Linked DNA regions of Homo sapiens: region 1 is linked to region 2. Evidence: fine-mapped expression QTL. A gene starts in region 2. The other region holds a variant in brackets. All regions are shown on one strand. Distances are between the middles of the regions. Region 1 holds the start of LOC124904163 (a long non-coding RNA gene). Region 2 holds the start of ZNF691-DT (ZNF691 divergent transcript).

Region 1 (4,397 bases), 9.0 kb after region 2:
GGAGTATCCCCAGAGATACTGCAGAGGATCAGCAAATTCCTATGTGAGCCAAACCTTATCTGCAGGCTAAATAAATAACACATCTCACACCTACAGGTAATGACAACATAAATTATGTAGATGTTGTAGGAAATATTACTTCATTTAAAACTATCACTGAGTATTGGACTTTGTGATCATGTATATTTTCTCAATGTAATAATTAATGCATAGATATGTCACATGTCTACAGATTTATTTTTATTTTTATTTTGAGATGGAGTTTCGCTCTTTTTGCCCAGGCTGGAGTACAATAGTGCAATCTCGGCTCACTGCAACCTCCGCCTCCCAGGTTCAAGCGATTCTCCTGCCCCAGCCTCCCAAGTAACTGGGATTACAGGCGTGCACCACCACACCCAGCTAATTTTGTATTTTTAATAGAGACGGGGTTTCACCATGTTGTCAGGCTGGTCACAAACTCCTGTCCTCAAGTGATCCACCTGCCTTGGCCTCCCAAAGTGCTGGGATTATAGGCATGAGCCACTGCACCTGGCCAGATTTTTTTTTAATGTTAAAAAGAGGTCCTCACACATGAAATGATGGAGAAGTACTGCTCCAGCATATTCAGTTTAATAAGGATCCTGTCCTCCTGGACCCCATCTAAGGAAATGTCATGCCTGGGTGATAAAAGGGACTTCCAGATGGCTTCACCTATGGGAGATGCATCTATCTCTTCCTGGTGAAACGTTTTTCATTTAAAGACTAAATAATAGTTGTGCAGGAAAGAGGAGCAGAGAATACTTGAGAAAAGAGGCCTTTGAGAGCCAAGAAAGCCCCAGTCCCCATGGCTTGAATTACCAGTACCCCCTCCCTTCTGCCCCAGGAAGTGAAACTGAGATGCTCATCCCAAAGCAAAAGTGTCAGCAGAAGGAGCTTGTGCCATGGATGAGGAGCAAAACTTACTGACAGCTTTATGGAGTTTTCCTAAAAACCAGAAAGAGAGAGAAGAGTGAGTGATCAGATCCTGCCTCTTTTTCCTCAGAGCTGTGGCAGCCTCATCACTCCAACCCACAAGATTAAAATGATGGTGACGCTTCTATGTCCCTAGTCCAGCTCCGTGTCCCAGAGTTCAGACCCAGAAATCTGATGGTGCTGGTGACACTGTCCCAGTGACCCAGCCTGCCCGGGACTTTGGTTCCTCCTTCCCCTTCCCCTCCTTTTCATCTGTCTGGTTTCATTTCTGCTGTCGGCATGAGTGTTTCTATATGTTTGTAACTGCGGTACATGAGTGTATGCACTGCTGTCCTTTTATAGCCCACCGTTTATGGTATCTAAGGTGTAAAACTAGCTAAAGGCCTAGCATGAACTTGTTAATATGGCTGTATTATTCTCTACAGTAACTCCCCTGAGGTTATAAATTTCACAAATTGGAGGTCCCAGAAGATTTGGGGACATGTGTATGAGACATGTGTTTCTGGGGAGTACTTGCAGCTTCTCTGGAGGGCCATGTGGCCCACATTTCCCCCTACCCAGCATTGGCCCTGCTAGACAATTGAAGTTACACATCCTGAGTCCACCACCAGTCCCTGTGCTAAGGGCCGGGCATGTGTTAGGCATTAGGCATTGGAGCAATGCAGCCGAATACGACACGGCTCCTAAGGAGCTTATGGTTTATTGTTACCATCTCCACTACTAACAGCTTCCATTTACTGTCTGCTGTGCTTATACTGAAGTAGGCACTGAATCCTCTCAATAATGTGAGATGCCTAGAATTATTATTGCCATTTTATAGGGGGGTGGTCTGAGGCTCAAAGGGACACAAAATTTGCCCAAGGTCTTCCAGCTAGTAAGTGACCAAGGAGGCAGGATTCAATCTAAGTCTGTCTGACTCCTGAGTTAGAGGCCCTCTCCCTTACCCCACACTGTTCCCTCTTCACTTGAGCAGAACAGCCAGTGTCTGCCAGATACACGCCAC[G/A]CTTGCACCAGCTTGGAGGAAATGTAAGGAGGGAAGAGAGGAGACGCTGACATCATTGAATCTGGAGTCATCTGAGCCAGTGACTTGTCTTCCCAGATAGACTTCAACAAGGTGTCCAACTCAGTGGCCCACAGTAAATGTCAAATTAATGAAGACAAAATGGCAATAAGGAAAAGGAGTTCCAGGCACTGTGACAGATTTTTTTTTAAGGTTGCCTGTTTTAACACTGAAAACAATCAGGTAAGGGGAAGTTATCTGCATTTTGCTGATGAGGAAACCAAAACCTAAGTGGCAGACCAATGATCTGAGGTGTCACTGACCCCAGAGCCTGCGACCCTTCCTTTGTATCATACCACCTCTCTCTATGCAAAGGTTGTGTGGATTCTTGAAATTCCCATATATCCCATATGACCACATTAATATACTTTTCAATAATATGTAGACTTCTTTTTAAAATGGTTGGCGGAAAGGCTAATGAAGGGAGTTTATGGTAATCTAGGCCTGTGAATTTTGACCTGGGCACCTCCTTACCCACTGCCACAAGCTCCACAGCCCCTTAACATTGCACACTAAATTCCAGTAATATCAATGGAGGATATATGTGTGCATGTGTGTACAGTATTATAAAAATAGACTTATAATAATGACTGTCAACATTTACATAGAAAAATAAAGAATGTGTTTTTTGTTCCCTACCCCTTACTCTTTTATATCATTACCTTTTTCTTTAGCATGGTCTGAAAGAAGATTGTCTAGAGGAAGAAAGGAAAAGATAATGAGATTTTTTGCCACTGCCTTGAGGATCCCTGATTCCTATTGATTTTACCTGCCCTTGGACCTGTCCACCTCTATCTTCACCTCCACCTCCCTGATCCGGTCTCTAATCAACTCTCACCTGGACAACAGAAATGGCAGCCCAAATTGTCTCCCACATCCTGTCTTAATCCCTCTGGTCTCTACTAAACTCTGCAGCCTGAGAGAATTGTTTAGTTTTTTTTTTTTTTTTAAATCTGCCACCCTGGCTGGATTGCAGTGGCATGATCTTGACTCACTGCAGATTTTTTTTAAAAATCTGCCACCCTGGCTGGATTGCAGTGGCACGATCTTGACTCACTGCAACCTCTGTCTCCGGGGTTCAAGCAATTCTCCTGTCTGTCTCCTGAGTAGCTGGGATTACAGGCACGCACCACCATGCTCCACTAATTTTTGTATTTTTAGTAGAGACAGGGTTTCGCCATGTTAATCAGGCTGGGCTTGAACTCCCGACCTCAGGTGATCCACCCTCTTCAGCCTCCCAAAGTGCTAGGATTACAGGCGTGAGCCACCATGCCCGGCCAAGTTTTTCAAAGCACAATTACATCTGATATCCCCATTCCTTGCTTTACCACTGCTCTTACGAGAATGACTAAAATCCTGAATGTGACCCACCAGGCCTCAGGAGGCTCAGCTCCGCCTCACTCCCCAGCCTCACCCCTGCCACTTTTCCCCTCACTCCTGCACCTCCTCAACTCCCCAGTGAGTGCTGCTTTCCCCGACCATGCTTCTCTCTGAAGCTGTTCTTTCTGCGGTGGCTGGTTTTCCATTCCCTCTTCACTCATGACTTCTAGTCCTTCAGGACAAACTTCATACCCTCAACCCTCAAGCTTGGTTGGTTCATTCTGGTCATAGCCTTCACAGAACCAGGAGCTTTCTTGTGTAGCTTTTGTACACATTTATTTGTGTTAACTATTTAATTCATCTCATTTCCCTGACTACACTGAAAGTTCCAGGAGGGCAAAAACTGTGTCTGCTTTTACTCACTATTGCATCCCCAGAATCTAGTATTGTCCAGGGCATTTTGTAGATAATTATCAAGTATTTGTTGAACAAATAAAAGCTTCCCCCATGTTCAAGCTACTCGACTCCCATAGAATAAGATCAAGCAATGAGCTCACAGGCAAAAATCATTAAACATACAGGAAGGCAAAGCTATTACAAGTAAGAGGCAGTAAAAACTGGAAGCAACGGATTTAGACATTGCCACCATCACCAAGGATAGCAGATAATGGAATTTTCAGGAACAGAATCCAGGTTAGTGGGTATGGGGGGCACAGAAATTAACAACAAAAGAAACATCTCCCCTGCCCCCCAGCCAAGAACACTTACCCACCTCCGTCACATGTTCATAGAGAAGCTTTTCTAAAAGGGAGAGAGAAATGCCAGCTCAGCTTAGGAAGGGCTTTTTCTAACAGGCACAAGTGTCCCAAGATGCCCCCAGCTGCCTGAGTAGGACTGACTCCTTGTCACTACAGGTAAGCGGGCATTTGAAAGGATTAGAGAGTCTTCAAACCATCAGATAAGGGCAGGAGTGTTGGATTACATGACTGTGACTTTCAAAGTCCCTTGCAGCCCTGAGATCCTGTGAAATGTGACCATTTTTTATGAGAGTCTTATCCAATGGATA
Region 2 (4,397 bases):
AAATCACTCCCACACTCCCAGTCCTCCTGCCCCATAGCACATCTTACCTTCTGACATTCTCTTTATGTCTATTATTTATTGTCTGCTTCCCTAAAACATAAGTTCCATGAGAGCTGGTGTCTTTGTTGTTTTTTTGTTTTTTTTTTAATTTACCAATGTAACCAAAACTCCTAGAGTAGTGGCAGCCATATACAGTAGATCCTTCATAAGTATTTGTTGAATGAGTTGAATAAAACACCAGCTCTGTCTTCATGGGACACAAGTAACCATGAACTGTCTCACCCACTTTTCCTCAGCAATCTCCTGATTCCTGCCTACTTTCTCCTTTATGCAGTCACAGAATCTTGTGCTTGGCTTATAGTGGTTTGCAACTACTAGTAGAACATGTCTGTTTCTATTAGTAGTTTATAAGCAACTTGAGGAAAGGGACTGGGTCATATTAGTAATCTCCTTCTGCAGCATAAAGCTGGGTGCTCAAATGTCTTTTGAATGTATAAGTGACAGGATGTGATCTTAATTCACGCCACCATCCCATCCCCCACCCCCTGCCCTGCTCCCATCTGACCTACAGCTACAGTATCTCTACGCAATGAGCTATTCAGCCTCCACTCACTTCCGAAACTGCTATTCTGAGAACCTATAATTTACCAAGTTCCAGCTCTACCCGGGGCTGGATGCTAGGTCAATGTAAGAGCAAAAGGATTTAGGATTATGATTACCACTCAGTTTGTGATACAGTGTACTGAAACAGACCGTGAACTCCAGAAATTGTCATACAATGCAGAAGGTTAAGTTCAGGGGACAGGGGCAGGAACTGTGCCTTAGTCACCTTTGTACCCACTCCTCAGTGTCTAACACAGCACCTGGCACATTATTAACATTTTTTTAAAGCTCGAATCAAGTGCTAAGCTGTGGACTAAGGACCATATATGAATCATCTAATTTCACTTCACATCATCCTTATTTTAGAGATGAGAAAGCTGAGGCTCAGAGAAATTAAGTATCTTGCCCAAGGGCACACAGCAAGTAAGTGGCAGAACTGGGGCCTATGCCCATCACTTCAAAGTCAGTGCTTTTAACCATTATACTATTACTGAAGGAAAAAAGGAGAGAAGACGGGAAGGAAGGAAATAAAAACAGTACCACTGAAGTTCACATGATACAGATGTATCTCCCTGATGAAATCAGGGCTGAGAAGTTTCAAGGAGGAGTAGGTATTTGACCTAAGGTTTGCAGGATGGGTAAGACTGGGACTTGCAGAGATAAAGAGGCAACTACCTACTGAGAAGACAGTGCAGCTGAAGTACAGAGGCACTTTCATATCACACTGCAGAGATCTGGGGGGAAAAGGGGTCTATTGGGCTTTGTCTTCCTGGTGGCTCAGCTGCACAGAGAGAAGCAACGGTGGAAGGGGCTGAGAAGTGGAGGAGGGGCCAGGTCTAAGAAGTTAAGAGCCAAGAAGATGGGGCTAGTGATCACAGATGATGAAGGTGAAGCGCCTAGGTTAAAGGCAAGGGGCCAAGCCATAGTGCGGTATGGAGGTCCGAAGTTACAGGTCTTTGGGGCCAAGTCAAGGGCTGCAGGGAGGAAGAGGAGAGAGGAGCTATGAAAGACCAAGAGCAAGGTGCTAACAGGGTAATTGTACAGGGAAGCTAGATAACGGGTCAGAGATACAGGAGGACCAAGGAAGTCAGAGGGTCGCAGGAGACGGTCAGGGAAGAGGAAGCAAAGGCTGCCAGAAGTGTCACAGGCCAGGGCCCAAGAGCTGAGTTGTGTGTTGCGGGGCGGGGAGAAGCCAATGGCGGAGGTCCAAGGGTACAAGAGCTGGTTTCAGAGATTGCCGGCGGGCTTGGGGCCAGAGAGGTGGGAGAGGAGGAGGGGCTGATCCTAAACGTATGGTCAGCGGCAGGAAGGCTGTATACTCAAACCCAACAGAAGGGCCGGGGAATGGGTTGGGGACAGCCACCTGGCTGCGTGGGCCGGGGGCCAGGGCGAGGGTCGCGGCGGAGGGACCACAAGGCCCCTTGGCTTCCCACTCGGTCCAGGGAGCAAAGCAGCAGCATCCAGATCCTCGGTGAGAGGGAAGTGGCCGTGTACAGAGTTTCCCGCGAAGTCGTGTCCGCCTCCCCCCGCGACCTCGGGCCCAACCCGGACCCACCTCGCTCCCGCCGCTCGATCAGGGACAGCGCCGCCTCTGTAGGCGAGGGAAGGAGCTGGAGCCGGAGCCGGAACCCAGGAAGGATCCGCCCTACTACTCCAGGATTGGTTTCTTGGGATAATTCTTTATTTCCATTGGCTACCATGACTGCCACAACGCAAGCGACCTGGCAGGACCACCAATAAGCTTTGACCGCTGGCGTGGCATGCTGGGAGTTGTAGTCCTAAGGAAGCGCGTAGACTCAGAGAAAACTTGCGAAGTTTAGGATGGAGCTGAAGAGACTGGGTTCCGTCCTACGGTGGGATTTCTTTCCGTGCTCGCGCGTTCAGCCCCAAGTCTCAGGGCCACTCGTCTGGGAAGTTGTAGAATCTGTATAGCCAACCTACACAACCTCCAAGGGGGCAAGTACTCAAATTTCCTTCTTTACTTTGAGTTGGTAATCCTTGACCGTCCTGTAGACGTCCAACGAAGCCTAGAGTCTGGCACCTCACTCAAGGTTTATAACTTAAAATCAAAGGAGGGTAGAGCTGGAAGGGAGTTTAAAGATAAAATAACCCAATCTCCTTATCGGAGAAGCTAAAAGTACCCTGTTCAAGGATCAACCTCCAGGTCTTCCAGCCCCCCTGAGCAGGGATTTTCCCGGGTTCCGCGTGCATCCCTAATTAAGCCTGACACGTGTTCGTCAATCCAGACACAACAAGATCACCAAAGTATCCAGGACTAGGTCTTTTTTTTCAGGTTTTATTTTTTAAAATAATAAAAGGCTAATGAAATACGTAAACTACAGGCTTCTCGTATCTGCACAATGTTTCAGTGCAAAGAACAAGGAGCATTGCCTTCAGAGCTAGATAAACCAAGTATAAAACTCTGGCTCTACCACCTAGCCATTTGGAGTACCAACTCCCTCCCCCATAAAATCCCTGGCAGAATTACTGTGAGGATATTATATATACATACATATATTCTCATGCATGTGTATGTGTATACATATATACATATATATGTATGTATGTTTTATATAGTTGTAAGGTTATAATACATACATATATTGAGGTTATTTCTTGATGACATTAATATTCAAATCAGTAGACTGATATGTATGTACATATATACATGTATAATACACATACATGTGTATATACATATACTAATGTATACATGTGTATATACATGCATACATGTGTGAATATGTATTATACATACATATGTATATATGTGTATACATATACACGTGCATACATGCTAAATACATATACATATATATACACCTATGTAGTACAGATATGTATATACACATACATGTATACATGTGTATATGTGTATGTATGCATATGTGTGTGTATATTATATGTATATTCATGTATGTATGTGTATATGTATGCATGTATTCTGCCTCCACAAGCTGACAATGTGAGTTAGTTTTAAGATTGGGATATTCAGGAATGCATGTTTGGAACTGAATATGGTTGAGTGAAATATGTGTGCCTTATGAACACTATTTGTTTATAAATTGATAAAATAAAATACTAGAGAGCAGACTCAGGAATAAAACTATGGCTTTAGTATGAACGGTGGCTAAACCTTGCCTTGGGGGACTCAAAGCTCTTTGGAAACCAATCTCTTACCTTCCCCACAACTCCTCATTCACAATGAAAATAACAGCATACCAAAACACAAATACCAAACTTTTATTTTAAAACTGTACAAAAGCAAACAAAAAATTCCACTGAGTCACTGTGATAGTTAATCTTATGTATCCACTTAACTGGGTCACAAGATGCCCAGCTATTTGGTCAAACATTATTCTGAGTGTTCCTGTGAGGGTGTTTCTCAATGACATTAACATTCAAATCAGTAGACTGAGTAATGCAGACTGTCCTCCCAAATGTGGGCGGGCCTTGCTGAATCAGTTGAAGGCCTGAATAGAACAAAAGAGCTAACTCTGCCCTAAGAGAATTCTTCCTGCCTAATAGCCTTTGGACAGGACCATCAGCTTTTTCCTTGCCTTCGGACTTGAATTAAACATCATCTCTTCCTTGGCGTCAAGCCTGCTGCCATCAGACTGGAACTAAACCATCAGCTCTCATGGGACTCCATCTTGCTGACTTATCCTGCAGATCTTGGGATTTAACCGCCTCCATAATCACGTGAGCCAATTCCTTATAATAACCACCGCCCCCCTGCCCCAATATATATTGATTCTGTTTCTCTGGAAAACCTTGACTAATACAGGAACTAA

Evidence for each region.
Region 1: its variant is fine-mapped to the expression of ZNF691-DT in lymphoblastoid cells (GTEx, PIP above 0.99).

Annotation. Positions count from the first base shown.
Region 1 is chr1:42,835,467-42,839,863 of GRCh38, reverse strand. It overlaps ERMAP (erythroblast membrane associated protein (Scianna blood group)), which reads right to left. Exons shown (of 12, transcript NM_001017922.2): 6 at 4,100-4,132; 7 at 2,674-2,706; 8 at 943-963. It overlaps LOC124904163 (a long non-coding RNA gene), which reads left to right and starts at 2,205. Exons shown (of 2, transcript XR_007066035.1): 1 at 2,205-4,024. The variant G/A (reference allele first, on the strand shown) is at 1,955.
Region 2 is chr1:42,844,419-42,848,815 of GRCh38, reverse strand. ZNF691-DT (ZNF691 divergent transcript) reads left to right here and starts at 2,402. Exons shown (of 5, transcript NR_186083.1): 1 at 2,402-2,559; 2 at 4,132-4,305. ERMAP (erythroblast membrane associated protein (Scianna blood group)) reads right to left here. Exons shown (of 12, transcript NM_001017922.2): 12 at 3,825-4,397. It overlaps ZNF691 (zinc finger protein 691), which reads right to left and starts at 2,203. Exons shown (of 4, transcript NM_001242739.2): 1 at 2,159-2,203. RefSeq lists enhancers at 2,167-2,236, 2,397-2,666.